Linked DNA regions of Homo sapiens. The protein of the gene in region 2 interacts with the protein of the main gene of each other region in a pairwise test. Each region holds a gene or a part of one and is shown on either strand. Other genes may lie near its edges. The genes, in order: PNLIPRP1, TMEM237, SERP2 and SLC35B4.

Region 1 (7,642 bases), on a different chromosome or scaffold from region 2:
CCCTCCAGCTTGCAGATTAATTGGAAGCTGGCTACTCTCTGGTTTCCTTCAACCAAATTCAGTAAGGTTGGTTAGTAAGGGAAAAACAATTGCATCATGAAAAGAGTCCTGTTTTGAAAAGGAAAAGTCTTAGGTGCAATCTCCGGTGGCCAGTGTCTAAATGACCTTGTGGATTTGACTGTAAGGGGTCCTTTCAGGCTCTTGGCGATGCCCCAGGCTGCTGGAAAGTGAGAGAGAAGTTTCACTATTTTTATAGTCACGATGACACAGTACTTCATGGAGTAGACACATGTAGATATTTGAAAAATAGAACTGTACTGATTTAAAAGAGATTGAAGAATTCTGGAAGGAAAATGTCTTCCTGGATGTCAAAGGAGCTGATATATCTTTAGGAGTTCTGCCAGGCAGTACATATTACCAGCTTGAATTTAAAATGGTACTATAAATTTAAAATGCACTTGGAATCATTCCACATATAGTATACTAATATGTGTGATCACATGCACAGAGATAGTGGGAGTTTTCTCCTCAGGACTTTTCTTTTCTTTTCTTTTTTTCTTTCTTTTTTTTTTTTTTTTTTTGAGACAGCCTCATTCTGTCGCCCAGGCTGGAGTGCAGTGGCGCGATCTCAGCTCACTGCAACCTCTGCCTCCGAATTTAAGCAATTCTCCTGCCTCAGCCTCCTGAGTAGCTAGGACTACAGGCGCCTGCGACCACACCTGGCTAATTTTTGTACTTTTAGTAGAGACAGGGTTTCACCATGTTGGCTACGCTGGTCTTGAACTCCTGACCTCGGGTGATCCACCCGCCTCGGCCTCTCAAAGTGCTGGGATTACAGGCATGAGCCACTGCGCACCTGGCCAGGACTTTCATTTTCAAGCAATCCTGAGGAAACTTTCACAAGCCTGGAGAATTTGGAGTATAAACTGTATCAATAAGATGCTTATTAATGATAGGACAGGAAAGGTGCCAAGAGTGAAATGCCTGTTAAACCAAGGGCAAGTGCAGAATGACTTTAATTTTCTGGGTTTGTAATTTTTCCTTTTGACATTACTGGTTGGTGTTATTAATGTATGTGTGGAAGGCAGGCTCCTGGGGTAGGTAAATTCTTAGGTGACAGAAAAATCGATTGAACTAGTCTCCACATAAATAGAAAGGATGATGGTATATTGTGGTATATTGCACGCACATGTGTGTGTGTTTGTGTGTGTATGCACAAGTTGCACACATGTCCATGTATGTATGTGTGTGTGTGCACATGTGTGTATTCTTCTGTTGCTCTCCTTCTGACCTATATTACATGTAGGTGACACTTTCTATTCTGTCATTGTAGTAACTTAATCTTAGTTTTCTTTTTTTTTTTTTTTTGAGATGGAGTCTCACTCTGTTGCCCAGGCTGGAGTGTAGTGGCACAATATTGGCTCATTGCAACCTTTGCCTCCTGGGTTCAAGCAATTTTCCTGCCTCAGCCTCCCAAGTAGCTGGGACTACAAGAGCCTGCCACCACAACAGGCTGATTTTTGTATCATTAGTAGAGATAGGGTTTCACCATGTTCGCCAGGCTGGTCTCGAACTCCTGACCTCAGGTGATCCATCCACCTTGGCCTCCCAAAGTGCTGGGATCAATTAAGTGGTCACAGCAACACATGTCAGCCTCTCAGGGATGTGGGAAAAATTTGAACAAAGAAACCCCTATAGTCCCTCGCTTATAGGATACAAAGTACCCTCACTACAAATGGAAGCAGAAAACATCAGGCCTTGGTTTAACCAGAAATTAGGTAGTAGGAGTACTTTTCTAACAGCAAATGTGGTTGCTTCAGTGTGCAGATGTAGTGCGGAAACATGGAAAGGCATTTTAATTTTTGTGAAGAGAAGCATTTTAATTGCATAAAGTTACCTAATATGTAAAGATTTCTTGAGTGCATAAAGTGATGCAGAGATGTTAGCAGAAGTGTTGGCCTCAGCTGGCCACAGGGATCAGAGCTGGCTCCTACCTTGCACATGTCTGTCACCCAGCTCTCATCTCCTTTGTCTATGAAGCCATGGATGATGAACCGGGTCTTTCTGTCCATTTGAAAATTTGATGCCTCAATTGTTGATGGATCAGAGAGGAGGAGAATCTGTGACAGACGCAGAAGTGCTTCATGTTTTCGCAGCCCAGCCTCACAGGCCTTTTTCCTTCCTCATCTCCGCCTGCGCCAATGCCTCTACTTTTCAAAGCTTAGCAAAAAGCCACTTCTTCCATGAAGCCCACCCTGATCTCCCTTTTCTTGCCCCATCTCTCCAGGTGAGTAATCACTGCTTCCACTAGGCCTGGATTGTGGTTTGAGGTTTTACCTTCCCTGTGGTTTTTGTTAGACAGTAAGCTGTTTGCCCCAGACCAGAATCACACAGTAGCTAGAGGTTCTGGCAAATGTGAACCATTCATTCATTCAAGCCAACATTACTAAAGACCTGCTCTGTCTAGGTCTAGCTAGGTCTGGGGGGCAGCTTGAGGGATGGGGTGGGGCATGGTGGAGGAAGAGGGCACAGAGATAAGGTATTCATGGTCTGCAGGGTGGGCATAGCCCCGTGCCAGTTACAGTGACATTTAAATGACAGAGGTCTCACTTGAAAGTTGTTTGGGTTTTCATTGGTGTACAGCAGGAAGCGGGTGCCGATCTTCTCAGGGCTCCAGGGGAGAATTTTCAGGGGCCTGATTGCTGTCCCGCCCCAGGGCTCAGTGTCAGAAAAGCACCCGAGGTCCTCATAGCAAACTTCTTTTCCTACAGAGAAAGGTTGAATCTGCTCAAGGATTTGCTCTCAAGGTGTGCTCTGGGGTGTCACTGCTGTTCGGGCCTGGTCACTCTTCTATTCAGGGACAGTCTGAAGACAATGGATGAACCTACTGCAACCCCTCCCACTCTCTTCTTGACCCCAGTGCCCACCTACTACTGGCCGGTAGTAGTATCAGTCCCATTGAATCCCACAGGGACACCACTGGAGCCTTTGTTTAGAACTACCCTCAAAACTGGAAAGTTCTAAGTCCCATTCCTAGCTCTTCTGATACATTTATTTGACCAATGTGATCATGGGCATTGATAAGTCAATATGTTAACTCAGGCAGATGTTTCATGCTTTACCTAGAAATGTCTGGCCTTGGGCACCCCGAGCATGAAGGTAGGCCACTGGGGGGATCCCCAGAAACAGGTCTCCCTTAAACTGCCCAGCCTACTCTCCCAGGCAGAGTGTCAGCCCACATCTTCTCTCTGGTACCCTGGAGCTGCTGGGAGCCCTGCCACAGTTAAAGCTTTCTCTGGCCAGGGCTGAGAGCTTAAGTTTAAGCCCTTCCTACGGGGCAGGAGTGGTGTTTCTTACCTTTGGCTGCTCCCAGCAGGAAAAGTGTGATTGTCCAGAAGATCAGCATCTACAATAAATTTAAACATAATTCAGTCTCACCGGGCATTGCCAGAGCAGTGAGCACCGACGCCCTGGACTTCAGTACTGTTTACCTCACCTGTACGTCACAGCAGGGGGAAAGGAGTTGCAAAGGTGGCTTACCCTGTCTAATGTTCCAGATGTTCCCTCCCACCGGATCGAGTGTCCAGCCCTTTCTAAAAATATATATTCCAGCCTTATCATTTGGACACTACTTCAAGAAAACAGCAGGTGATTATAGCCCATGCTGTGCGCACTTAATACTTTAATCTGCCCAAATACACAAAACAAGATTAATAATAGCTGTCAAGTCTTCCCACAAGTCTGGAAATATGACAGAATGCTTGGTTAAAGCAGGGAGTGAAGTCACCAACCTTGTACCTATGTAACTATGCATGTACTTGTGAGCTGAATGGGCCCTCACTTTTCAGTTTTCTATTTCATCACCAAATAGTTTACAAGTCTCAATAGGGACACAGCAGCAAACCCTAATGATAGAGGATAGTATTTCTCATTTAGAATAGATGAAAATACCTGCAATTAGTTGAAAGTAAAGAGAAATCTCTGATTAAGAAAACTTCTTCTCTCTCTCTCTCTCTCTCTCTCTCTCTCAATCTTCCTCTCTCTCTTTCGAAGACTAGGAATACTGGGCATCTGAGCTTTGGAGAAAAATTCAACAGCCCTCACAGTAGCTTCTGACCACAATCCTCCCATTAACTGCCTATTCCAGTTATATATTGCTATGCAATGAACCAATCCAAAAGACAACACTTTAAAACAATAGCAATGATTGCATTATGCCACTGTAATCTCAATAGTTGGGTTCAGGAGCCCCCAGAGGCCCATGTCATGTCTGTTGAGTTTCCCCAGGTCCTCTGAAGGTTGCACACCTGCAGATAATTCTTGGACCCTGTAAAGCCATCATGATATAACCAGAGACCTCTGCATCTGTGAACAGCCCAGCCAGTTCACACAGCAAGGCAGATAAGCCTTCACAAAGCAAACACCATGAGTGCCTCCCCTTGCCAAGTTAAATATGCCTCGGTGTCAAAGTTCTCAATCTTAAATAACCAAAACACAAGGGTGCAGGCCTAAGGGCCTTCCTCTTAAGAAAATGGAAAGGACTCCTGGAATCATAAAGAATAGCTGCCAACTGTTACGAAGCCTTACCAAGTACAGTCAGAATTCCAAGCACCTTACGTGTATTACCTAATAAGTTTTAAAACAATCCCATAAGCCTCTCTTTATAAATGTGGGAACTGAGGCACAGAGAGATAAGTAAATTGCCTAAAAAGTCACACGACTAACGAGTGATGAGGTAAGATTTGAATTCAGGCTGTACAGAGTTGTTGAATATTCAGTTGTGTTGAGCTAGTAATCAGCAAGCTTCACTGGATGTCAACCATGTAGAACAAGAGGGATACACAGAATGAGTCAAAAGAGAAAATGTGAAAACCCTCTTGGCCCTTGACCTGTTTCCTCCCTACTTCCAGGCATCCCCAGGATGGAGAAACAGGCTAGACTTGGTGATGGACTGGGAAGGTGGTCAGAGTTCTTCATCCCTTCCTCCTGTACACACACCCTTTGCAATGTGATCTTGCAGCTCCTTCCATCAAGAAGTGGAGTTTATTTCTCCACCTCTTGAATCTGAGCTAGACATGGTATGACTTGATTTGGTCATTAAGTGTGGTAACAGCAACATCTTTGAACAACTCAAAGCCAGCTGTCCCCCAAGTATGTAAAGGACCCAGCCAAGATTAGTGGCACTGCCTACTCAACCCACTGTAACCACAGAGGCATGAGTAAATCCAGCCAAGACCAGAAGAACCACCCAGCAAACTCAGATTTTTGAGCATGGATAAATGCTTTAATTCAGTGCTTTAAGCCACTGAATTGGTGATTGTTTGTTATGCAGCAGTAGCTAACCAATACAGGAACCCAAGCCAGGCCTGGAATTCAGAGACAGCAGCACCTGTTGCACTCACTGTTACTATTCTTTAGCACACAGCACCAGGTTCGAGCATACCCTTTCCTAAGACAATGAGGAAACTCCGTGCATCAGTCAATATACACTGTGCTCCAATGCACTGGCTCCTGTTTAAATGCTCTAGGGGATTTAATTAGACTAAGCCTCTAGCAAGGCTGAGGTTCAAGCTGCTTCTCCTTCACAGGCTGTCAGACAATTTATTCATTCCACACCAGATGGAAAGATTTCTGGGTGAGTCTTTCAAACAACAATAACAACTGGAATTTCTTTTTTTCTTTTCTTTTCTTTTTTTTTTTTTTTTTTTTTTTGAGATGGAGTCTTGCTCTGTCACCCAGGCTGGAGTGCAGTGGCGCGATCTCGGCTCACTGCAAGCTCCACCTCCTGGGTTTATGCCATTCTCCTGTCTCAGCCTCCCAGGTAGCTGGGACTACAGGTGCCCGCCACCACGCCCAGCTATTTTTTTGTATTTTTAGTAGAGACGGGGTTTCACCGTGTTAGCCAGGATGGTCTCGATCTCCTGACCTAGTGATCCGCCCGCCTCGGCCTCCTAAAGTGCTGGGATTACAGGCGTGAGCCACTGCGTCTGGCCAACAACTGGAATATTTTGATTGAACTTACATCCAGTTTCAGGGTCACAAGTAAGGATTCATAGGCATACAAATCTGTGGATCTCTTTTTGAAACCATGACTTCATTTCCACCAGACAGCTCTCAGGTCTTCAAGACGTATGACTCATTGAAGGTCACAAAAGTAAAGAATGAAGTCACCAGCCATTATCTGTTATACATACATGTGTAGATGAAGCCCAAATATCTGCTTTCCTTCAGGCAATCAGCTCTGTCCTTGTTTGCTCCTTCAATTTTAATTCTGGGGGAATGATAGAGTTGGGTTCAAGGTGGGTTTTCGGAGTCCCTTAATTTTAGAGAAATGTTTGTTTTGAGAAAGCTGGTTTTTAAATCTCTTCCAGAGCCTAGAATCAGACTGTATTACATTGAACTATGTTTCTAAATATCCCATGAACTGGCAGACTCTCCCTCTGTGTGTTGTAATGGAAGTAGGGTACAAGAACTTGCCTCATCATTAGTCAGCTATTGATTTCTTTTTCTTTTATTAGAGATACCTGTCTGTGGGAAGTGAACTCAGCTTCTGAGTTTCACCTAGAGTTCTCAAAGTCCTTGATGACCGCTGGTAGATCTCACCGAGGCCAGACAAACCCTGGTGCCAGTTGGAGTGCATTAGGTCCAAAAGTCTGCGCTCCTCTGTAGGGGTCCTTGGCATTTCCAGAACAACTCCCAGCCTTCAGAATCTGGGTGCTGTGAAGTTCTGCAAACTTGAATGACGATTAGATAGGGAAATAATCAGAACTTGCTCTCCATACAAGTATCAAAACGGTTGATTTACACCCAAAACTTGGCTGAAGCCACTTTTGGGGGCCTCTGCTTGTCCATGAGGAAGTCCTCATCATCCAGCTGCCATGGACTTCGGAGACCAGGAACTGGGTCTTTTTTTTGCTCACTTCTGTGTCTCCAATGCCTAGCGGAGTGCCTCACATATGGTAGGTGCTCAGCACATGTTTGTGGAAGACATGAATGCTTACTCAAGGACCATCCTAGTCTTGTCTCCTACAATTCTCTTCTCTGAATACTGCCCAGAAGCCATAACAAACTGTCTTCTTAATATTAAAAGAGCTAAGCTTTTAAAAACTGTGTAACTTTTCTGTACTTACCTTTAGTTGTTTCATAATGACCAAGATCCTATTTAAGAAAATGTTTTAGGTCTTTTGACATTTCTTACAAACTTCTGAAATTCTAATTTAAGTCTTTTGATCTCAGAATGACTTTGGGACATACTAGAGGGTCCCTGGAGCTTCTCAAAGGAAGAGACATATTAAACCAATTAGGCTTATTAAATACATTAAATTATATGGGAAACATTGTAAATAAGAAATTATATTTAACCTTCTTTTAGTTATACTTGTATAAATATGTTGTTTCATGTTCCACAAACTAATAAATTCTTAGAAATCTAATGTGTTAGCAGCTGTAATTTTGGTTATTATGTTAAACTGTTATATGCTACAAAACAACCACATTTCCTTGTGAATTGTGTCACTATTATAATGAATTCTCATCTTTTAACGATGGTCATTTTAAGTCCTGTTATTCACGCACAGATCATTAAATAGTTAATTGTTTCCTTTTTTTCTTTTCTTTTTCTTTTTTCTTTCTTTTTTTTTTT
Region 2 (7,749 bases):
TACTTTTGGATGCTACGTGCAGCATTTGGGGAAAAAAAAAAAAAAAAAAAAAAAAGACTGCTTCTCTAAGTTTTATGAACTATAATCTCAGCCATCCTGTCAGCTTCATGGCTGGCCGCTGATCTGCAGATGTTGGCTCTCCCTGTTCCGCTCTTTCTAGCATTGCTTGGTTTTCTGAATCTATCCCAGCTACTCACTCCCATCACTGTTCTGGGATATGAAACTCCCTGACAGGGGGTAAGAATGCAGGGCTCCTTCCGTCCATCATATGATGACTTATTTTAGAACTATAACTTGGCTGGGCGCAGTGGCTCATGCCTATAATCCCAACAATATGGGAGGCCAAGGCGGGTGGATCACCTGAGGTCAGAAGTTCAAGACCAGCCTGGCCAACATGGTGAAGCCCATTTCTACAAAAATACAAAAATTAGCCAGGCATGATGGCGGGTGCCTGTAATCCCAGCTACTCAGGAGGCTAAGACTGCAGAATCGCTTGAACCCAGGAGGCGGTGGCTGCAGTGAGCCGAGATAGTGCCATTGCACTCCAGCATGGGTGACACAGCGAGACTCTATCTCGAAAAAAAAAAAAACTATAACTTGAAGATCTAAAACAGATTTTTAAAAGGAAGATATTTCATTAAAAATGCAGGTGGACATAACAATAGTTACCCATTAACCAAAGGAATAAGTATTTTCTTGCCATATATTTGGAAACAAAAACAGAGCCTTCATTATTTGCAGTTGAAAAAGAATGGAAGGATAAGAAAAGTTGCTGTTATTGCCATTAACAATTGCTAATGTCATTGTGAATTCTTACCAGAGGCTACCATTAACAGAAGAAGGTGTGTAAAGGTGGATTCTGTCACTTGTCATTTGCTGACTCAGAGATAGTATAAGAGCAGTAAAGTACACTGAGAAAAAGACAAATGAAATTACTAATAATTTTTAACAACCTGGTTTATTTTGAATTTATAGATTAATATCGAAAATAATCTATACTTTCATGACTGATGATATAAAAGAAATTTATTTGACCAAATAAATATATTTCAATAGGCCAGACATCCTTATATAAATTTTTGAGAACAATAGGTGCAGAAGGATCTTTTGAGACGTTCACTATTTCATCATTAGAACTGACAAGAACCTAGAACATCTTTTTAAAAGTTAAATGACTTGCTCAAGGTCCTAAAACTAGTTTTATTAATATTCTCAAAACTTAGAACAAAATGCATTCCAAATGATCAGAAAGATATAAAATATTGTTTGTTATTAAAAGGCCATACCCGCTGAATCTGTTTAATGTCAAGTAGAAAATACAAAAGTTAAAAAGTAAGTAATATAGTACAATAAATTAAGCTTTTCAAAGTTATTTAGATGAACCTCAATTGAAAAAATAATTCTATCAATATTATGCCTTTTATGTTTCTAATTACAAATTCACTGAACATCTATAGGTAATGTTTATAAGGAGCAGTAATACAACTTTTAAAAAAAATTATATTTATCCTGGTTCAAAATTATGGTATAACTGAAGTATTACACAGTTATCATGTTAAACTGCTTACTCACAGAAAGATGCTAAAGCTGTAGGATCCAGGGCCAAAAAATTTCGGATTGCTACTGATATTTTAGCAAAGTCAATCCTAGAAAATATAAAAGTTTCTTGTCACAGCGCAGTTGTAAACTTAACAAAACTTTACTTTCTTGACTATAGTTTTTTCCTTCTCTAGTCTAATGCTAGCACATATACTATTACTAGGTTTTAAGTAGCTACAGTGTATACTTAACACGCATGACAAAATTATCTAATTTACAAAGGCCACATAAAACATCTAACTAGACTACTTTGGACAACATTCCTTTGGGGTTAAAACATCCTAAAGAAAATTAAACTTGATCTATAAAATTTCATTAGTTTCTACCTCTTTCTATTACCCATATCATTGGGCTCTAACTCGGTGGATTTTTTTTAAAAGGGGCTAAATTGTGTTCCCAAAAAGATATGTTGAACTCCTAACCTGGAGTACTTATGAATGTGACCTTATTTGGAAGCAGGGTCTTTGCAGATGTAATAAAGATAAGATAAGGTCATTAGGATGAACCCTAATCCAGTATGACTGCTGTCCTTATTAGAATAGACACAGATACAGAGATACACAGGGGGAAAGTGCTGCATGACGATAGAGGCAAATATTGGAATGATGCATCTACAGCCAAGGAATGCCAAGGACTGTCAGCAACCACTGAAGTGAGGGGAAGGTCATGAAACAGACTCTCCCTCAGAGCCCTGGAAAAAGGAATCAACCCTGGCCACATCCTGATTGCAGACTGCTCGCCTCCAGACCCATAAGAGAATAAATGTGCTGTTTTCAGCCAGCCAGTGTGTGGTACTTTGTTACAGCAGTGCTAGGAGACAAATACAAATGCTCTGAGTTTCACCTATACCTGATTTAGATGACATTTAGGAACTTCTGAGTTGACTATATTTGGATGAAATTTTGGACTTATGAATTGATGCTGGAATGGGTGAAGTCTTTTGGGAATATTTTGTTTACAATGGTCTCATCCCCTCAAAAAAGAACAGAAGTAGACTGGCCTTAAAACTTTTTGAAGTAACATTGATACTCTATAATTCTATTTTGAAAACTATCATGGTCAGTGACACATTTTGCTCAGCATTTCCTCCTGAAGAAGTTAGACAGATCTGGAGTCATAGGCATTACCTGTCAAAAGCTGAAATTGTACTCAGAGCCAAAAGCAAGTACAGAAGACTCTGGAATGGATACGCTAGGGTCTTGTATTGTTGCAGAAGGTTTGAGAGGTTGGATAGCTGATCTCCTGCTAGAACATATATCACAACAATATTCCACACAGCACAGCCAGCCAAGAATCCATGAGAAAAGAGACCAATCATCCTGAATGGAAAAGGGTTTGATTATTATACATGAATTACTAAAGTAAAAAGCTAAAACATGTTTAAAATCTCTTCATATACAAGAATAAAATTCAACATTTCATGACAAGTAAAAGCAAGCTCTTTCTTTTTAGTTACACTGATAGGTAGATCACTCAATTCCAATAGGATGTTTAAAAAATATACCTACCTACCATTTTAAGTTGTGATTTCATTAATAATACTGAACAACCAAGAGGTTATTTTTTTCTTTAATTACAGAACTCAGTTAACATTTATTTTAAGAAAAGTCCAACAAAAGCAGCCACCTGAAAGCCCGGTGCACTGTAAGTGCCACATCTCTGGTGGTCCAGGAAGGCTTCACGTCCATTGACACATCTATGTTTTCTGTGGTCTTTATCAACTCTGAACGATCAGCAGCCTGGAATCTCCCTAAGAACACATAACGTAATTACTAACAACTAGCGAGAGAGAACCCTGGTAGCCATTTTTTTTTTTAAATTCCATACTCAGGAAGCCGCAAACTAAGACTGAAATATTGCTGTTCTATCTGAAAATTCTCCTTGACTCAGTACCTATTTCAGAAGGATCTTTTCTTGGGGTTCCTTAAACATAATTTTTCATCTTGAAGAAAAATAAGCGATGTCAGTGTATTTTCTTCTCAATCCAAAGTGAAGTAACAATTTCAGAAATCAATTATATTTAATAAAAAAAAATGAACTTTCAACTCAGAATAAAGTCTAGAAATCTTTAACATGACCTAGTCTACAAAATTCTAATTTAGAGACTTTAGAAGTATTAAAGTTTATATGCCTATACTATCAAGGTAAGTCAATATTTGAAAACTACTTTAAATTTCTTAGGAAAAGATGTCAGGATGTGTAGCATGGCTTTCTGGGATGACAGGAAAGAAATAGGCTGCTTCATAAATTTCTCTTTAGAACATTCCTGTGAAGAACATCAGTTCAAAAGTCAGCACTGCAATATTGTATGAGCAGGGCTTTAGCCTTTTTACTGTTGATTCAGAGGCTCCTTCTTGTATATCTAGTAATCCACAAATAGACCTCAGGAAACAGGAAAGGTTCCATTTCAATTATCCTCACCAAACCCAGTTCGCAGGTGTTTTGGAGGATGAAAGACAGGGGTGTGACAATTTTCCCTAAGAAAAGACAACTTCTGGGCAGACAATAGAACCACTGGTACCTTTTATGGCCAGTTACTCTAGCAGGGAAATTTCTATGCTAAGTGAAGCAAGAATAAAAATGAGGATTAAGTGATACTGCTTGAAAAAGAACTGCGGTAATTTAAATGACCACGTGGTAGATGAATAAAACCATGTGACTAGAAGTCATAAAACCACAGTTCAAGTCCCAGTTCCACCCTAACCAAACTGTGAGACACTGGGTAAGTCAGCCTCTCTAGACCACAGGTTTCTTATTGGCCAAGAACTGCAAGATCCCTTAAATGGGATCTTCTGAAGTAGGGTTCTAAAACAAGGTACACAAAATCTAAATTGTAAATTTTAAGGACTAACCTTTATGTTTCAGATGAGTTCTTTAGGCAGCATATGCTTAACATATCCATGGTAGTATATAGTCATGATCATGCTTTGAGTAGGTTTTTCTTAAACACTGTGTTATAGACGGAATGCGTCCCCCAAAAATTCATATGTTGAAGCCCTAACCCCCCAGTGAGTGCGAGGTCACTGGGAGGTAATTAGATTTCGATGAAGTCATGAGGATAAAGCTCCCATGATGAGATTATAATCCTTTTAAGAAGAAGAAGACACACCAGAGCTCTCTCTGCCACATGACGACACAGTGGCAGCTGTCGGCAAGCCAGGAAGGGGCCTTCTCCAGTAACCTAATCTGCTGGAACCTTGTCTTGCACTTCCTAGCTTTAGGAACTATGAGAAATAAATGTCCGTGGTTTAAGCCACTTAGTCGGTGGTATTTTGTTATAGCAGCCTGAGCTAAAATACACTGCAAACCTAGTATACATTATACAATGTCACAACTATCTTGCAAAAGAATATACAGCTATAATGTTGTATTTCTTATTTAATATGGTAGTATCATCATGTATTTTCTCTTATTGTCAATTGTAGAATTTATATTATTATCTGTCCCACCACAACTACTACCAATTGCAGCAAACTGGTAAAGTACAAGAAAGAATAAAGAATCAGGCAGGGGTGGGGAAGATCTTTACATTGCCCATAACCCCATAAATCCAGAAACAACCAGCATTAATATTTGAGCCTATTTCCTTCAAGTCTTTTGTCCTATGCATAGATCAAACTGTGTGTGTGTGTGTGCACATGTGTATATGCTCATTTTTTATCAGAATCTTTCCATAAAATGAAAAATTCTCCCTAAACATTATGTTTAATGGTGAAGAACATTATTATATAGATACACCACAACTTACTGACATTATTCCTCTCCTATTTCACATTTAGGTTGTTTCCAGTTTTTCACTCTCATGAATCATAGCATGATGACCAGTTTTGTGTATAAATTGTTGTACACAGTTTTGCTTAATTCCTTAATTCAGATTTCCAGAAGTATAAAGGATATCCTTGGACAATTTTTAAAGAGTTCATATTCTAAAACAAGGCATCTACTTACGGCTTTTTTCCACAAATACTTTGCCTACAGGCTGGCTAATGCCAGTGGGTGCAGTGAATACAGACTGCTGTTCCACAGTAGTTTGCTCATCAGTGATTATGTCTTCATCTTCTACTCCTAGCTCATTGGCATACTGTAATTCTGCTGGCTGGGTTTTCCTGTAATAAGGACGTATGTATGAAAAATAGATGATTATTGAATTTTTTACAGACTTACATAAGGAACTAGCTATAAATATAATGGAAAGGGCCCTGGACTTGGAGTTAAGAAATGTGGTTTTTACTCAAATAAATCGGTTATTAACTATTATGTGCAGCAAGTTACTTACATTTCTGAGGGCTTCAGTTTTCTCATTTGAAAATTGAAGTGACTGAACTAGATCTGTAAGCTTCTTTCCAAATTTAAAACTGTATGATTCTGTATAGATACTGATAAGGTTTGGCTATGTCCCCACCCAAAATCTCATCTTGAATTGTAATAATCCCCACCTGTCAAGGGACTGTTCTGGTGATAGTGAGTTCTCAGGAGATCTGATCGTTTTGTAAGGGGCTTCCCCCTTCACTCAGCTCTAATTCTTCTCCTTCCTGCTGCCCTGTGAAGAAGGGTGTGTTTGCTTCACCTTCCACCATGATAGTAAGTTTCCTGAGGCACCCCCAAGTCATGCTGAACTGTGAGTCAATTAAACCTCTTTCCTTTATAAATTATCCAGTCTCGGGTATGTCTTTATTAGTAGTGTGAGAACGGACTAACACAGACATTGATCACTATTTGTAGGTTCATTTTCAAATACAAATAATAGTGCTATATATATGACTTCCAGTGTTATTTCTTTAAAGTACACTACTCATTTTATCTTAATGCTAAAACCCAGTTTTACTTATTCCTAAAATAATCATAATTTGAATTCTGTTAACATAAGAAAATAAATCACAATAGCCTATTTCATTATCTTTAATTTTTAAATATCCTTAATGTTTAATTTTGCTACTTATATATTCTATTTGTGTTCTTCTTTTTTAGAGATGGCTCTTAAGTTTTTTTATTTAAGTACAATCTTAATTTTTTTTATTTTCTCAGTGGTTTACTCTTCTGAAATTTATCATTCGATTGGTTTAACTGATTTTTTGTAATAATACTTATCCTAGAGGTACACAAATACAAGTATGTAATAAGACTTAATGAGAAGCTACTGCTTCGGAGCTCCAAACAAAGCATCAGGGTAATCCTGGAGAATAGTTAGAAGAATAAATAAATTCCTACTTTGTCTTCCTCCGAGGTTTTTGAATAACTGCCTCCTCAGCTGGCTCCGCATCAATACCATTTTCATTTCGTAATAAAGATGAACTAGATGACTTCTTTTGGGTGGAGGAAGTCTCCAATTCTGAAAACAAAATAAATTTAACTTTTCAAATAACTAAAACATAAAAAGAAAAGTAATGTACAAGACTTGTATAAGAGAAAAGAACTTCAAGAATTTTAATTGGGCAAAAATGTTTTCACTATCTTACAAATTTTTAATTTTTTAAAAATGTTATACTTCTAAACTCTCAATGTAAAAATTGAAATTGTAATGCCAAACAATATGGAAAAAAATTAAGTAACCCAATACCCAGGCTGTGCTGAAGATTCCCAAGATTATCTCCTGGTTCGCTGACTTTCTAGAAGGGCTCACAGGACTTGGAAATCATCACACTCACAATTATGGTTTACTACAGCAAATGGATATAAAGCAAAATCAGCAAAAGGAAAAAGTACATGGACCAAGTCCAGAGGAAACCAAGTACAAGCTTCCAAGAGTCCTCTATCAGTGGAGTCAAATAGGATGTACTAACATTACTGGAGAGTAATGAGTTGTGACAACACATGTGACACATGTTGTACAAAAGAAGCTCATCAGAGACAGTGCCCAAGGTTAGGGGCTAGTCACATAAGCCTAGCACATACCAAAATTCTGGATGCCCGGAAGGGAAACAGATGTTCAGCAAAAATCACTATGTGTGCACAAATGCACCGTGAGTCACCTTATAATTTAGGGAAAGTTTTCTATCAGTGTAGGGAGCTGTTTATCATCCAAGTTCCCAGATGCCAGCTAACGGCCAATCTTATCAGCAGGCTTTTCCAAGGATAGCAGTCTCAGGTCTGCTATATTAACTCTTTTCTGCACACAGGGTAGGTATTAAGTTTAAATGAGTCAGTGAAGCC
Region 3 (8,749 bases), on a different chromosome or scaffold from region 2:
GGGACAATTCACATAAACCTTACTCTATGGCTGGAAAAGGTGGGGAAAACTAGTAGTGATTCTGCAAATGACATGGTTTACTCCAAACATGAGTTTGCTACTTCTTGAGGCTCCAAAAATGTCAGGGAATGGCTTTCCCTGTGATTAAGATACCCGTAGGGTAACTCAGAACTCTGAAATTTAAATTCCCCCTTCATTCTGGAGAAGTTACTACTGTATAATCACAAAATGATTATTCCATTTCTCTGTTTCCTTTTTTTTTTTAGACGGAGTCTTGCTCTGTCACCCAGACTGGAGTGCGGTGGCGTGATCTCGGCTGACTGCAACCTCTGCCTCCCGGGTTCAAGCCATTCTCATGCCTCAGCCTCCTGAGTAGCTGGGATTACAGGCGCCCACCACCATGCCTGGCTAATTTTTGTATTTTTAGTAGATACGGGGTTGTGCCATGTTGGCCAGGCTGGTTTCGAACTCCTGACCTCAGGTGATCCATCCGCCTTGGCCTCCGAAAGTGCTGAGATTACAGAAAGTGCTGAGCCACCACGCCCGGCCTTGTTTCTTGGATTAGTCTGCTATCTGGGAGAATAATATTAATTTATCCGTAAGCTATTAGCTAATAATAAAATACTGAAGCATCTGCATACAATTAAAGAAGTTTATTTCTGAACAATTAGTCTGAATTTTCAGTTGGAATCTATACTTGTTCCCATTTAATGAATTTCATCCTGAATAGTGATCTTTTGCAAGTTACTTTTAACAAAGTATAATCATATTTGACTTGTAATTGAGAACATGAGATTTAGGATTTATCAAGTTTCTCTTTGAAAGAAAATTTCATTTTTCTATTGGATAGTAATCTATTTACAATAACATTAACCAAAATCCCCCCAACCAATGCAAAGCAAACATTGATTGTGGCTTGGTCTGGAAACCTTTCATTACAAATTTAGCTGGGCCATTTAAAAACTCTTATAGGTGCAAGGCACTATGAGAGTTTCTTGGGGGCCACCCCATGACATATCAGAGCATATTAAAATGAACTCATACTGTACATTAAATATAATTTAAATGTAGCTCTGAACATTGAGTTGAATGGCAGGTGACTGGTACCTTTTCTAGGTATTTAAACAATGTTTTCCCAATTTTTCCATTTTCTTCTTTTATTTTGGAGCTAATAATTTTTGTTTTGGGTCCCAAACATTTTCTAGTTTTCTTGAAGAACTTGAGGTGGCAGACACTGAGTCTACAGAACCTAATAGATACAACAGCCTTAGAAATTAGTTCTTGTTTTCTTCTTACTTTTGTAATCAGATAAGCTGTCAACTGAGATCTGACAACTGAACTCCGGTTTTTTAGTTCATGAAAAAGAGCCACATGACTAGTTATTTTTCACTGTGTCAGTTAGCAGGTCTGATCCCTTGAGAAGGAAGAATTGATCTCTTAGGGATATAAAACCCTGCATGCCTTAACATCAATTATAAGTTGCTTCTCAATGTCAACCCGGGCAGCCATTTTTTTTTCCTCAGTAAAAATAGGGAAAACATAAATCAATGTGACAAAATGGTTCCAATTTGATGGCATCTTGGCATTTTGCTGCCTAATCACAACTGAGTGATATAATTCCTAAATGAGAGAATTTTAAGGATTACTTAGGTCTTGTGTATAAAGCTCTGAGTAGAGTTGAGTTATGCTTAGACTTGTGTATAAAGCTCTGAGTAGAGTTGAGTTTGGTCCTAGAGTTTCTCTGCCGTAATACTGCTTGGTTTTGCAAGAATTCTGGTGTGATGATTACAGATCTAGCTTTTTGCTTAGTTAATCAAACCAATATAGTTTCTTTGGCTAAAAGGAATTGATTCATCAAATCTGCAAGCTTTCCCAGCCAAACTCCAGGCTTCAGCTGGATTTCCACTTAACTGTACGGGGTAACAGATCCCAGGCGCCTTTGCTCATATACTTGGAGACCAACTTCGCCAAACTACCCATGCGACTCATGCCTCTGAATGTCCAAAGTCACAGGCCTCGCATTTTCTGTTGATGATAATCTGCTTTGCTAAAAGAAACTCCTGAGTGTAAGGCACAGGTTTTACTTAAAAGTCCAGTTGCAAAGCTTGAATTTACAGTTCTAGGGACACCGAATGCCTGACAATAAACTGGTCTCTAAAGTTATACCATGAGAATGAGTCTGAATTCACCAAGTGGAAAGAATAGGAATGCTGCCCTTAGACTTTAGCCTAGGGGCTGAGGGAGGTCTCGCTGGAAGAGAGGTAAAAGAGAAAAAAGAGGCTGGAGGGAATGTGGGTCCAAATCTCACTCCCCATTTTGAGCTCTTTCCACACCTCCAGTGAAACCGTCACAAAGGGGCTGGAAAGAAAACTTGATCCTGGTGCAAGTCTGTTGGGGAGGGAAGACAGGTGGAGTCCGGGAGGAGATGACAAGTGGCCTCCATTTAGCCATTGATTCATTCATTCATTCAACAAACGTTCTAGAACATACTAGGTTCCAGGCTCTGTGTCATGCAACGTTCTAGAACATACTAGGTTCCAGGCTCTGTGTCATGCAGTTGACTTAACTGGCCCCTAAGGATGAGGCTTTCCGTCTTTCTCCGGGACAAGGCCCAGCTGTCTCCCGGGCAGGGGGACAGGGGGTGCGGGTCGGGGAGGAGGGCTCCTCTGCGCCTCCCTGGTAGCCCAGGTAGCCACTCCCAGAGGGGCCACGACCAACCAGGGCCCTCTCCGCCCACGAGGACGCCAAGCAGACCGCGCCGCCCTGAACCCAGCTCTCAGCCCCCACTCTGCAGGACCCCGCAGAAGGGGCGGGCCGGGAGCCGGGAGGCCGGACCCTGCGCCGCTACCCGCCCGGCCCCGCCCCCACCTTCCGCCCCACCCCGCCGGGCTGCAGGGCTCTGCCTGGCCGGCGCCGACCCCGCCTTACCAGGGTTTTGGCTACGTTCCCCCTCTGGGTGATGTTTTTGCTGTGCTTCTCGTTAGCCATCCGGATCCGCTGTTTGGCCACCATGGCTTGTGCGCTCTGAAATGCTCCCACCTGCAAGGATTCCCCCTGCGTTAGCTCCTGCGACAGGGCCGAGCGCGTCCCGCCGAGGCCCCCGCGGCCCACCCGGGCGCTGCAGGTGGCAAGGCGTGGCCCCGAGCCCTGCGCACCCCGCTCCCCGAGCCCCGGCTAGCCGACTCCAGAGAGAGGCCGCAGCCCGGACGGAAGTAATCTCTCATCTCAGGAAACCCTTTCCGACTTCCTCGCCATCCTTCCGGTCCCCGCAGCCACCTACCCCGCGCGGCCACCGAGGCAGGCGCGACCGCACGTCCTCCCGCGCCGAGCGGCCGGAGCGCAGCGCGCAGAGCCGGGGCCCTGCAGTGTCGCGGTCCTGTAGCCGAATGCTGCGGGGCCGAAGGTTCGGGCGACCACGGCGTTTGTGAGCGCGTCGGGGACGGGGACGCGGCCCCTCCTGTGTTTGTCGGCCGGTGACCCACCCCAGCCCCGGGGAAGGGATGAGGGCGGCCGCGCTTCAGGCCGGGCCGCGCGGTCTCCCCTGCACCGCCGCCCCCTGGACGAGGGCTGGACCCAAGGCGGTGGTCAGGGACCTCAGAACACAAGTAGAACCAGTCCAGGCCCGGGCCCGCGCTGCCCGGGTATGGTCCACCAAACGAGCCTTCTCTTTAAGGGTCTCGAGAAGGGCCCCACGCTGGGGGACCCCACTGCAGAACTTTTCGTGAGGGCTGCAAGGAGGGCCGCGTTGTAAAATAAAGAGGAGACACGAAGCGGCATCCCCTGAGGGTTGGGGATCGGGCCGTGAGGATGGAGTTGGGACAGGCCTTTTTGCTTTGGTAGTTGTAGGGGTTGCATTGGAAGATGGGCCAGCGGCAGAGCGGAGCATGCAGGAAAGAGGAAGAGGCCTTGGACCTGCAGCCCAGGTCGGATTTGGTGGTTACTGTCTAAATCTGAAGCTTTGGCCTGCCTTGACTCCCCACCCACCCAGGGCAGCTTGGACCTCTCTCTAGCCACCCTTGTCCCGAGGGGTCTGAGTGTCTCCCAGACTAAACTGGGCATTTTCTGCAGTGGAAGGATAAAAATGGAAGCGTTTACGCGCCTCCCAGACACTGGTATTAGGGCTCAAGAGCTCTACAGATTGCCTGGGGAGGTAGGGGTGGAAGGGGTTCAGTTCCTCACTTGGAGTTAGCTCTTAGAAGCTCAGAAGAGTGGAGGCGAAGAGGGGACATTCAGCCTGGGAGATCTGGGGCAGCGGGAAGTGGGGATACCGGGTCGGGGTGAAGGCAAGCAGCAGCACCCCCAGCATGGGGAAGAAGGCCTGAGGCTGTCTCTGGCCACTGCATCTCTAGGCCTTCTCTTGGAGCGGGAGGTGGCTGGGTTTCCAGGGAATTTTGTGTGAGTAAAATTTTCCCATGTCATTGGAGAGTTAGGAAGAGCTCCTCTTTTGGGGCCTTTTTCCAAGCGGGTCCCCCTCACCCCGCTACAGGCTTCTTGTCACTCAGGCTTCAATAAAGGCCATTCTGGGGGCTGCTTGCTGTAACCTAGAAGACAGAATTGCCTAGGATCATTAGTAGAGTCATTTTTTTTTTTTCCTACTCTACAGGCCAATTAATTTGAAACAAGCTTCTATGGTCTTTTAACTGTTAGCATCACCACTGTTGTAACAGGACCATAAACCCAGTCTGCCCCACTCTAGTCCCATGTTTTTAATAACTGTTGGCTCTTTTTTAGGGGTTTGGGTGGGGGGATTCCTACCTCAGTGATCCCTGCTGAGCCTGGCTGTTGTCTGTGGTCCAGAAGGTTCCTTTACCTGACTCACTCCTCTCAGATCATGTCCAAATACCAGGAGACTGACCCAGGTCCTCACCAGGTGAGTAGAGGTCTGGCTCTGAGCGACATTAAGGAAAAGACACAGACAGAGACTGTTTTCTCTTTGGGTCTTCACATTCAGTGAGTACAGTTCAGAAGTGTTCTTAACTGAGAGAAGCCCCTTTTGGGGAAAATTTTTCTTTACTGTTGACTCCTTTTTCCTGCTATGCTTCACTTTTCCGGCATTTTAAATTAGTTTGTTTTAATTATGAGTAGACTACATCTACACAGTAAATAGTCAAACAGAAATAGGATAGAAAATGAAAAGTAAAGGTCTCTCTTTCCTTGCCACCCTCCCCAAAAAGTTCCCACGGTTCCTGGGTTGCCCTTCCAGTATATACAAGACTATTTGTATATTCCCTTCTAAAAAAAAACGGAATAGTAGTATGCAAACTGTTCTGCCACGTGCTCTTCTAACTTAATATATCAACATTATCATATCACTTATATATGACCTCTTTCTTGTAGTTGTGTTATGTCTCATAGTATGATTATACAGTAATATATTGAACTGATGTAACCATGGATGATTATTTCCAGTTTTTCTTTTTTTGTGGTTGCCAACAATGCTTCAGTGAATATCCCTGTACATAGATCAGTGTGTACTTGTGCAGGTATATCTGCGTGTGATATTGTGAAATATATATTTGATTGTAGTCCCTGTTTCCTGACCTAAAACTCTTAAATTCCTTGGACTCTCCAGAGTGATGAAAATATCTTACCTTTTGTATGCTAATGAGATGGTTGGTGACTTGGAGACCCTAGATAGCTTCAGGATGGGGACTGGTCACCAGAAAGATCAAGGCAGGATTAGAGGGTTGGGACTTTTAGTCCCACCCTGTCCCCCCAGACCTCCACAGAGAGGAGAGGGGCTGAAAGTTAAGTTGATCACCAGTGACCAATGATGTAATCAATCAGACATATGCAATGAAGCCTGTATAAAAGCCCAAAGGATAGGGTTTGTTGAGTTCTGGAGAGCAGAACATCAGGTTCCTAGAGGGTGGCGTGCTCAGAGAGGATATGGAAGCGCCACAGCCCTTCCCACATTTCTTGCCCTGTGCATCTCTTCCATCTCACTGTTCATCTATATGCTTTGTAATATCCTTCCTCATAAATGAGCAAACAGAAGTAAAGTGTTTCACTGAGTTCTGTGATCCACTCTAGCAGATTAGTCCAAACAAGGAGTGGGTTGGGGGAACTCCAGTTTATAGCTGGGCAGGCAGAGGTACAGGAGACAACCTACTACCTGGGATTGGCATCTGAAATGGGGGGCGGTCTCATAGGATCAAACCCTGAGCCCCTGCTATTTCCAGGTACATAGTGCCAGAATTGAATTGAATTAAAGGACACCCAGCCGGTGTCTGTTGCAGAATTGCTTGGTATGAGGGGAAACATCCCCCACACATCTAGTGTTAAAAGTGTGCTGGCTGTGTGAGAGTGGGAGACAACACTTTGGTTTCTCCTATATCACAACACTGGAATTAGATTCCTGGAAGTGAAATTGCTGCAACTTTTTATGTCCTTGGTTGGATGAAGAAACCTCGTGCTGTGACCTCCACTTTACCTGCTCACACCCCTGCTTTTGTCCTCTGCAGTCAGGCCAGCTCCTCTGCAGGTCTCAGTCCTGTTTATTGCCTTGAGGATCACCATCATGGACCAAGCAGTTTCCCAGCATGGATCCTGGCCCTTCTTATACTCAGCCTCCAGACCCTTATGTGGGGAGCTGGGGCTAAAGTCTATAAGCTGTGTTCCTGGAGTTCCAGAGTCACTACTAGACTACGAAGGAGCAAAGCATGGAGTCGTCTTGCTCTTTCGAGGACTTAGGAGGGGAAAATGGAAACTTGATTAAGGAGAACTTCTCCTGGGTTCATCTATGGTGGCAGCATGGAGTTTTGTAATATACCACTAGCATGCAGTGCTCAACCACAACTTTTAAAATTGTTATGGGCAAAGTGCCAGGAAACTGCTAACTGGTTAAAATTTAATTTTGGCTGGTAAAATTTTCAGCCTTTATTTTTATTTTTGAGACAGAGTCTCACTCTGTCGCCCAGGTAGGGGTGCAGTGGCGCAATCTTGGCTCACTGCAACCTCTGCCTCCCGGGTTCAAGTGATCCTCCTGCCTTAGCCTCCTGAGTAGCTGGGATTACAGGCATGCACCACCACGCCTGGCTTTTTATATTTTTAGCAGAGACGGGGTTTCACCATATTGGCCAGGGTGGTCTTGAATTCCTGTCCTCAAGTGATCTGCCCACCTCAGCCTCCCAAAATGCAGGGATTACAGGTGTGAGCCACCATGCCCAGCCAATTTTCAGCCTTTAGAGCAAGAAATCCTAACAAGCCTATGCCCATTAATCATAAATCTGCCCCACTTAGGGCACTGGATGTGTGGCTGTACAGACTGAGTTTTACCCATCTTTATAAATGATGCTACACTACTAAACTGTGATGCATTGGACATCTCTCATTTTTCTGTGGCTGACCAGCATGCAAACATTCTTTATATTTGGGGCACTCCATCACTGTGAGAGTCTTAGGACCTTCTTTCCCACCGTGGAGCATAAGGGGGCCACATACTTGGTCTCCCAACCCCTCACAGCTAGGGTGGCGTGTGATCTGGCCAATGAGATTCTCCTTTTGGGAACTGTGAATCTTGATCAAGTGGTGCAAAGACAGAGACACGTTAAAATTCATCTTGGTGGTCGAGTTTCTAGAGACTGGTAGTACCTAGCAATCATGGTGGAACCAGTGACAGTATCCTTTTTATTCCGTGGTACCTGAAATCCTTACAATAAATTCTTCCGCTTCAATCAGCCAGAGTGAGTTTGTCTTATTTACAACCAAGAACCCTGACTCATGTACATGAAAACAAACAAAAAACCAGAATGTCTTCCTTTGTCATTTCCCCTTCCAGATCTGGAGTGACTGTCATGTCACTTGAAGCTTTCACACATTGTTAGCTAGTGGTCTCTCTTCACCTTATCTCACTAAGGGGAACTGAGTATAGAGGCCTTGACGACAGGTGCTGTGGGTGGCTGGTCTCAATTATGGATGGGAGTGGTTGACAGGCACACCCTGTGTAAATAAAACCAGCAGATAACCGACACTTCAAATGAATACTTTCTTCTTTTTCCAAACCATTTTCAGTACGGCTAGAAAAGAGGAAAATTTGGCAAATCTCAGGTCATCTCCTTTTATACATGTTACTTACATTCTGGTGGAAATGTTCATGAAGTTGTCTCAATAGTGGGCAGAGAAAATCAAGAAAGCTGATAGCAAATGTTATCTGCCACATGCATTGGAGTCAACTCAATGCACTAGATTATGATTTTATGGAATCATGTTATGTTGTAACTGGAAGGAAACCCAGACAGTCATTTATTCATTCGTTTAGTGTTTATTGAGTGTCTGCTATATACCAGACACTATTTTAGACACTGAGAATTCAATGGTTGCTAGAAGAATGTCTGCTTTAGAGAGCTCTAAGTTTTGTGGAGAGGACAAGTAAATGTCGTGAGATTGTCCAAATTTCACAAATGAGTAAAAGCCTCAGAATTGCAAAGGGAATTGTAGCAGACCTGAAAGCAGAATTGTGGCCTCCTGACTTCTCATTTTTCCCAAAAGTAGCTTTACTAGCTAAACTTGAATGGGAGCCAGGGTAACAGGGCACCCTCATGGCTGAGCTTTGGAGCAGCTTATACATGCACGGAAAATAAATCTCCTCTCTCTCTGTCTCTTTCTCTTTCTCCCTCACCCCGCCCCGCCACCCCCCCTCAACCCCCCACGCTGCAGAACAAAGATAAACTATTTCAGACCTCAAAGGCTTGAACTTTGGTCCACAAGTGGTGGCACAAGACAGACTTTATCCATTATGATAGCTATG
Region 4 (8,553 bases), on a different chromosome or scaffold from region 2:
TGGGGCTTCCACTGTGATGTCCCAAGATAAAGTCACAAATTCCAAGGCCATATCTAGAAAGAACCTTAAGGCCATCTGGTTCAACTAGCTCTTATTTTATTGATCTGTAACACAAGAAGTGGAGACTTGTCTTAGGAAAAGGCTCTATTCAGTCTGGTGCACCACTGATTATTTTAATAAATGCACCTCCTCACCACTTTATGAAAACCCATTGTTTTATGCAAAAAATGCAGATTTACAAAAAAAAGATAAGTGATGATTTATTTACAAATTATTCAAAATATTTTAAATAGGAGCTCCTATAATGCATGAAAATATTTTATAAAATTAGATTTGTCCACGACTTTGTAGGACCATAAATATATAAAAAAGAAATATATCTTTCTTTTATATATTAAAGAAATATATCTGTATTGAAACCAAATTGTTGGACAGAATGGGAAGCCCTACAAGTGTGCTTTAGGCTTCACATGCGCATCTCACTTCATCCTTCAAAACTCTGTGAAGCTGGTAGAACCATCATCACCATCACCCCCTTTTACAGTTGGGTCAGACTCAGGGAGATCAAGTAATTCAGTCAAGGGCTCACAAACTAGTAAAGAGGGGATTCAGTTGCTTGCATATTCTCATGTCATACAGCCTTTGGCAAGATTTAATTTAATGGCATATTCAACACAAATATTACCATTATTCCCTGACTTTCATTTCCATGGCTGGCCCGATGGTATCACTTTTTTATATTTTCTTTTTTTATTTTTTGAGACGTAGTCTTGCACTGTTGCCCAGGCTGGAGTGCAATGGTGCTATCTCGGCTCACTGCAACCTCCACCTCCCGGGTTCTAACGATTATCCTGCCTCAGCCTCCTGAGTAGCTGGGATTACAGGTGTCCACCACCAGGCCCAGCTAATTTTTGTATCTTTAGTAGAGACGGGGTCTTACCATATTGGCCAGGCTGGTCTTGAACCCCTGACCTCGTGATCCACCCACCTCGGACTCCCAAAGTGCTGGGATTACAGGTGTGAGCCACCATGCCTGGCCAACTTTTTTATATTTTCAAATCAATTGTTGCCAAAGTGGCCTTCCTTTAAAAGTGTATCAGATTTACAGTTGGATACAATTTTTTTTTCATTTTTTATCCCTCATCACCTATTCCCAAGTCAAATAACAGATCTTTATCAACACTTTCTGTACAATAAAATGTCAAGCTCCGTAACAGCAAAACTTAACCCCACACAGAGTTTACCTTAAGTAAACTGGTTGCTTTGGGATGATTTAATCAATGATATCAAATAAAATAAACTTCTAGTAGGCACCACATGAAGAACTGGATGACCAAAATCTATGGGCTGCTCAAGTTCAAAACTGGCAGGGAGGTTGAAAAAGGTATTGGACTAGGAGCTTAGATATCTTGGGTCCCATTTCTGGCTCTGCCACTTACAAGTAGTGAAGGGTCACCTAACTTCTTTGGACCATTTCCACTTCAGTAAAACAGTTTATAATTCTTGACCAATCTTCTGCACAGGATTGTTCGGATGATCAACAGAGATACAAGTTGAGTATCTCTCATCTGAAAATCTGAACTCTGAAATGCTCTAAAAAATATGAAACTTTTTGAGCACTGATATGATGCCACAAGTGAAAATTCCACACCTGACACCTTTGCTTTCTGATAGTTCAACGTATACAAACTTTAATTCATGTACAAATTATTAAAAATATTGTATACAATTACCTTCAAGCTAAGGTTATGTGTATAAGGTGTATAAGAAACACAAATGAGTTTGTGTTTAGATTTGGGTACCATCCGTAAAATATCTCATTATGTATATGCAAATACTCCCAAATCCAAAAAAAAAACAAAAAACAAAAAACACCAAATAACACCCGTTCCCAAGCATTTCAAATGAAGGATACTCAACTTGTAATGTATAGATTCAGAAACACGAGCTAGAGAACACTATAGGTATTGTTTTACTGCCAGGAAAAGGAGCCCAAGAGAGGCTAAGTGACTTGAAGGGCTACACAGCCAGTGGACGACGGAGCCAAGAGTGAAATTCACAACCCAGCTTTTTAGTCCTGGAGGCTTTTCCACACCACCTGTTGTCTCTTCTGTTATAGCTTCTATCCACTGAACTTTGCACATTCAAAGTGACCTCAAAGAGCCCTCTCAGGTCACTTGGACCAATCTTCTACTTGCTTTTTTTTTTGTCTTTTTGCAAGCCACCTCAAAGAGCACTCTCGGGTCACGTGGACTGATCTTCTACATAAAAATCTGTTCTACCGCATCATTTATGTATGTTTGGGCAAAGTACTCATAACCATTTCCAAGGCCAATAAAGCAAATGCTTTGCAGGATGCCGTAATAAAAATAAAACTTTCTTTGCAGTATGTACAAAGTCAGACTGCTTTACAAGTCAAAAACCTTTGCTCAAGTCCAGCCTGTGCCATTTAACAGGATCGAAAAAAGAGCTAGAGTTGGATGGGAAGGAAGAGAGAGTGGTTTGGTGAAGGAACCTTGGTTCTGACACTAGCTCTCTGCCGACCTTGGACTGGTCATGTGAAAAACTCTTCAGACTTCAATACCCCCCGAGTGTGGAAAAGGGGTGACGACAGCAACACCCTGAGTCTTCCCCTCGCAGGAATGCTTTGAAACTGTTAGGCGGGACTGCCGCCGGTGCGCAGTTTTGGGAAGCAGCGGACTCAGCGGGGTCCCAGGCTGCCCAGACAGGACGGATTGCTGGGGGGCTCAGGCCGTCCTGCCCCGGGCTCCGTGGGCGGCGGGGTGGGGACAGGGCGTGGGCGCGTCCCGGGGGGACCTCTCCTCTGGCTTCCTCCGCCCCGCCCCGGGAGACCGGGTGCGGCCCGAGCGGGTCACTCACCGGGCCAGGAGCTCTAGGAAGATCACGTTACTGCAGCAGCCTGCGAACACCAGGCCCACCGCCAAGGCCGGGCGCATGGCCGGTGCAGGGTTGGGGAAGCAAGCGCACAGAGTAAGCGCCCGCCTGTACCGCTACCCCAGGAAGCCGGCCTCCTGCCTCTTCGCTGCGCAGCACATCGCACCGTCCTGGAAAGCCGCTCTCACTGGGGGCCGCCGCGGTCTCCCCTTCTCCCGCGGCCAACACCGACGCTGCCAAGAAGCTGTAGTTCGCAGTCAGCTTCGGTCCCATTCATCCGAGGGGGCGTCCGAGCCCCGGCCAGACTACATGTCCCAGGATGCCGTGCACCTTTACCTCAGGATGCGACGTTCCCGCTTCCGCCAGGCAGCTCCGCCAGAGAGGACAGGGGGACGAGGTGCCCGGCATGACTCGCGCGATAGGCGGCCGCGGGTCTTGCTGGGAAATGAAGTCCCAAAGCGTCAGTGTTTCTTGCGAGACCGCCCAGAGCGCTGAAAGTAACTCGGCCGCCAGGGTCACAACAAACTTGCTGGCAGCGGCGGCACTAGAACTACAGAGCTGTGACTGCTCGTTGGAGGTGTTCTAGCATCTGAAACAACTCTGCTTCCTGAACTGATATATATATATGTATCTTTGGTGACTCTATTATGCTGCCAGGATTAAGAACCACTGAGAATTCAAGTAAAGCAATGGCTCTCAACCACGTCTGTACATTGGAATCACTTGGAGAGCTTTAAAGATGACTGATAGCCAAGTCCCACCCCCAGCGATTCTGATTTAATTAGGCTGAGGTGCAGCCTTAAAGGTGATCTATTGATATTATCCCTAATCCTAGCTCTTTAAGGTACTCCCTTCCTTTACCTCCGTGGTTCTCAAACTTAGCTGCGCAGTCAAATCACCTGGGGGCTTTGAAAACTGCCAACGTCCAGGCTCTTCTACTGGCAAAAATGCCAATATCAGCAATCAGATCTTTAATGGTGAAAAGAAGGCATACTTCCCTCTTCTTACAGTGGAATTCTCATAGCACTTACAATCTGAGCCATTCGACTTGACTCTTACTTACTCAATGAACAAATGTTTGTTAAGCACATATTACGTACATAAGCTAGTGCGGCACTATTCTTTATTTGTAAAATAGGTATGCACACTTTATCCACCCAGCAAGACTAGTTTTTAAGGGAAACGTGTTTACACTTCCTTTCTGCTTCCCAGTGTCTACTATAAAAGGTTAGCATCACTGCTCAGTATTTTACCACATCAAATATTTCCGTTGTAATTGAATCCAACAGCAATAGCAAAGTACACGGTACAAAGCTAGGTAGGATTTTGGAATGCTATATTGTTTTTGCTATTTCCTGTGAGACACGAACATTCTGAAGTCTTTCTCGAGATCTACAAAATAGTTTGGAATGCTTTTTTCCCAGTCCGTGACTGGGAGATCACATTGGAATCATCTGAAGTACTCGTTATCGAGTGCAGATTATTGGGTCTCGCTTTAGACCTACCAAGTCAAAATCCTTGTGTATGGGTTCTAGAAACTTGTATTTTTAACAAGCACTCCACGTTCTAATTCTAATGCATTCTAGAATTTGAGAACTGCTGCCTTAAAAAGGTGAGTAGGAAGAAGAACTAACATAAATAGAAAGCCTACTACCTGTGAAATTCAGTATTTAATGAGCACCCGTCTTGAGTTTGCACAGTGCTGGCACATTAAACAATGAATTATATATACATATATACACGTATATATACCAGTTATATTCATATACACATATATACACACACACATATATATATATATATAACTGGTATATATACAGGTATATAATAGTACCAGTTCTACCTCAGACCAAGTAAAGTGGACTATCTGGGAGTGAGGCTGAAGCAATGATAATATCTCCACCTCCACTATCAATAATCCTGCCAACAGGAAGCTGGTCTGGATTTTCATCTGGATTTCATTAGAGGTGATTTCTCTTCACACAGACCTTCATTTTCCATATATGCCACTAATTTGGAAGCCCTTAAAGGATGTTCTAAACATTTCTCATTACATCTCAGATAAAAACCCAAGCATGTCTAAGTGATTGCACAAGAAAAAAATGGCCTGAGTACTGTAATATTTGCAAGAGTTCTGTATCTTTCTTCCTTCCTCCACATTTCTGTCTTCACCTACTGCAGTGAGTATTAATTTAATGTGCATGTTAATCACTTGGGGATCTTGTTAAAATGCAGATTCTGATTCACTAGGCCTGCAGCATGGCCTGAGATTCTGCATTTCTAAGTAGCTCCCAGGTGATGCTGGTGCTACTGACCTGTTGACTGCACTTGGAGAGCAGAAGCCTGTAAAATCATTAACTCTGAAGACCTCTCTATCCTCCCCTCTCATTTGCTCAGAGAACTCTTGCTAGCAAACCTGTTCTCAGACCAAAATCATGCTCAAAGAAACTAACTTATCTTTCTTCCTCCCTCATTTTACCATCAACTCTCTTTAAAGAGTAATCTACATTCGTAGTCTCTACTTGTTAAATCTCCAATCAGCTTCTTAAACTACTCTGATCAATGCCAGGGTATTAAAAGCAGTCCTGTTGAGAGCCGTGATGACTTCTTAATTGTGAAAACCATATAACACAGTCTCACCTTACTTGATCTGGCAGTGGCTTTTTACAATGAAAACCCAATATTTCTTGACATTCTCTTGTCCCTCTGTTTATAAGACATGAGTCTCCTGTTTCTCTTTTGACTTCTCTGACTTACGCTTTCCAGTTTCCTTAATGGGCTCTCCTCCTCTGACCACTGGGTTCTCCTTTCAGAGTTCCATCATTTATTCCCTCCTCTCATTGCCCTGCACATGTTCTCTTGGCGATTTCACCTCTGGAACTTCCACCACTGCCATATGGAATAGTGATCCTGCGTGTGTGTCTATGTACAGCCCCCATCTCCCTTGTGTCCTTAATCAAAATTTCCAGTGTCTTTGGAATGTTCACTAATGTTTCCCTGTAAACCCCTCACCATTAGGGCATACACATTTCATTACCTACCCTCCCTAATAGGCCTTTATTTCTATTAAGAACATTGTACTCTACTTCTTCTCTTTGGGAAAAACCTGAAAGTTTTCGGTCTTCCTCTTTTTTCCACTGCACATTTATTTGCTCTTTATATCCCATCGGTTCCACCTCACAAGTATCTCTAGATTCCAGCCTTTCTTGTCCATTCCCATTGACATCCACTTCTTCTCCCGTAAAGGCCTCCTAACATCTTGGTGCCTTCAGCCTCTGTGTTCTTTAACCCATCCTCCCTGCTGCCTCCAGGCTGATTCCAAAAACAAACCCAAAATCTTCATGTCCCATTGCTATTCTAAGATGTCTTTTCTAATTGTGTAGTACGACATAACAAACCACCCCAAACTGTAGTGATTCAAAGCAAAACAAACAAATAAAAAAACCCACACACTGTATTTCTCACTCAGGTTCTGTGTGCTGACTGTGCCCAGCACACAGCTGCTCTGTCCTCTTGGGGTTCTCATGCAGTTGCAGTCAGATGTAGGCTGGGGTTGGAGTTCCCTGAAGGCTTGAAAGGGTTGATCCCCGAGATGGCAGGAGCAAGTCTCTTGACATGGTGTCTCTTAGGCTGTGCTTGCTCACAACATGGTGGATTCAGGATAGTTGGAATTCTTAAATGGTAACTTGTTTCCCCTGGAACAAGCATTCCAAGATATTAAGTCAGAAGCCGTCGTGGCTTCTGAAGTCACACAGTGCCACTTGTACCACATTCTATTGATTCCATAGGACCAAGCCTGATTCACTGTGGGAGAAAACTAACAAAATCATCAGTTGTGTCTGTGTGGGAGGGACGTCTTTGAAGTCTAGCTATATACAATGTTCTTGATTCCTTGTGTAAAAGCCACGCTTAGTAGAAGGCATATAAACATCACAATCAAGCCTTAGTTTACCTCTTTGGTTTTACCTTGTGTCACTCTCCCTAGGGTTACCTGGGCTCCACCCACATAAACTCACTCTCTTCCCTGAGTTTACAGTAACTTTCAAAATTCTTATCTGTGCATACGCTGTTCTGTCTGCTTGGAATATCCTTTTCTCTTTAGCCAACTCCTGTTCATCTTTTTACGGTGGCCAGAGAGGACAGTAGAGTCAGTGGATACCTCTATATTGTGCAGGAGGAAGGTGCTGTGCTAAGATGTCACTTTTCTGTGTGTAGCTTTTCTTTCCTTTTTTTTTTTTTTTTTGGAGGGGGAGTTTTGCCCTTGTTGCCCAGGCTGGAGTGCAATGGCACGATCTCGGCTCACTGCAACCTCTGCCTCCCGAGTTCAAGCGATTCTCCTGCCTTGGCCTCCTGAGTAGCTGGGATTACAGGTGCTCACCACCACACCTGGCATATATATATATATATATATATATATATATATATATATATATATACAGAATATATATATATTCTGTATTTTTAGTAGATACGGGGTTTCACCATGTTGGCCAGGCTGGTTTCGAACTCCTGACCTCAGGTGATCCACCTGCCTCAGCCTCCCAAAATGCAGGGATTGCAGGGATTACAGGGATGAGCTACTGCTCCTGGCTGCTTTTCAATGAACCATTCATGGCTCCCTTCTCTATACCTCCAGCACTCCTCCATACCCCCACTAATCCATTAATCATGTTGCACTGTAGTTATCTGTTTTCATGTTGGTCTCCCCCTCTAGACTAAGCCTTTGATGAACAGAATCCACAAATAACTAATTTATCTCTAGATCCTCAGCATCTTACATGGTGACTGGTACATAATATGTGCATATACCTTCTATTCAATGACTGAATGAATCAGCTTGAAGTAGTCAAATAATTCACACCTCATGAATACATGATATTTTTCAGCTTGACTAATTTTAACAATGTAAACATCAAAAATGTACTGCTCAGTGAATTTGCATGAACAGTGGTGTATAACCAATACTCAGGTTAGGAAATAAATGAGTACCAGCATTCCAGCAGCTCCTGTGCCCCATTCCAATCACTAACCCCCTCCAAGGGCAAGCACTATTCTGACTTTCTAGCACCAAAGATAAGTTTGGTCTGCTTTTGCACTTTACATAAATGGAATCATGCAGTATATTTCTTTTGTTTCTTCTTTTTTTTTTCTCAACATTATGTTGTCAGTTCAGCTACATTTCTTTGTGTATTTGTAGCTCATTTATTCTTACTGCTGCATAACATTTCCTTGTATGAATATACGACAACTTATTTGTTCTCTGGTGATGGACAATTTGGCTATTATTAATAGTGCTACTGTGAAATATCTTGTACATATCTTTTGTACATTTCTATTGGATATCAGCGTATCAATTAAGGTCCAGTCAGGAGGCAAAAATTGTATAGTAATTTGAACAAAGAAAGCTTAATATAAAGAATTATTAACTAGTAGTATTAACTAGAAGATAAACTACTATAAAGGATTAAAAGAACTCCCCAAATTATGGGAATAGCAGATACAAGGAGTAGCCACTACATAAGACTGAGTCAGACTACCCAAGAAAAGAACATATTTGGAAAAGGGCCCTCTCCCCTCCTCCCCAAATGGAGATTCAGACCTCATTGAAGGGGGTAGTGCTGCAGTCCTCTGGCTAGCAGAGAAGTTCAGTGAGGTGCT

The links.
Region 1: the proteins of TMEM237 (region 2) and PNLIPRP1 interact in binary tests that used the Homo sapiens proteins (3 or more experiments, as listed by UniProt).
Region 3: the proteins of TMEM237 (region 2) and SERP2 interact in binary tests that used the Homo sapiens proteins (3 or more experiments, as listed by UniProt).
Region 4: the proteins of TMEM237 (region 2) and SLC35B4 interact in binary tests that used the Homo sapiens proteins (3 or more experiments, as listed by UniProt).

What each region holds. Positions count from the first base shown.
Region 1 is NC_000010.11:116,586,894-116,594,535, reverse strand, and holds the start of PNLIPRP1 (inactive pancreatic lipase-related protein 1 precursor), read right to left. Parts: upstream 3,578-7,642; 5' UTR 3,541-3,577; intron 3,524-3,540; exon of another isoform or gene 3,497-3,523; intron 3,407-3,496; coding exon 3,358-3,406; intron 2,766-3,357; coding exon 2,611-2,765; intron 2,121-2,610; coding exon 1,995-2,120; intron 1-1,994. UniProt on the Homo sapiens protein: May function as inhibitor of dietary triglyceride digestion. Lacks detectable lipase activity towards triglycerides, diglycerides, phosphatidylcholine, galactolipids or cholesterol esters (in vitro).
Region 2 is NC_000002.12:201,626,504-201,634,252, forward strand, and holds part of TMEM237 (transmembrane protein 237), read right to left. Parts: intron 6,929-7,749; coding exon 6,808-6,928; intron 5,706-6,807; coding exon 5,548-5,705; intron 3,350-5,547; coding exon 3,226-3,349; intron 2,919-3,225; coding exon 2,727-2,918; intron 1,647-2,726; coding exon 1,573-1,646; intron 912-1,572; coding exon 818-911; intron 1-817. UniProt on the Homo sapiens protein: Component of the transition zone in primary cilia. Required for ciliogenesis.
Region 3 is NC_000013.11:44,368,289-44,377,037, reverse strand, and holds the start of SERP2 (stress-associated endoplasmic reticulum protein 2), read right to left. Parts: upstream 3,215-8,749; 5' UTR 3,013-3,214; coding exon 2,929-3,012; intron 1-2,928. UniProt on the Homo sapiens protein: Interacts with target proteins during their translocation into the lumen of the endoplasmic reticulum. Protects unfolded target proteins against degradation during ER stress. May facilitate glycosylation of target proteins after termination of ER stress.
Region 4 is NC_000007.14:134,313,795-134,322,347, forward strand, and holds the start of SLC35B4 (nucleotide sugar transporter SLC35B4), read right to left. Parts: upstream 3,137-8,553; 5' UTR 2,958-3,136; coding exon 2,881-2,957; intron 1-2,880. UniProt on the Homo sapiens protein: Antiporter that transports nucleotide sugars across the endoplasmic reticulum (ER) membrane in exchange for another nucleotide sugar.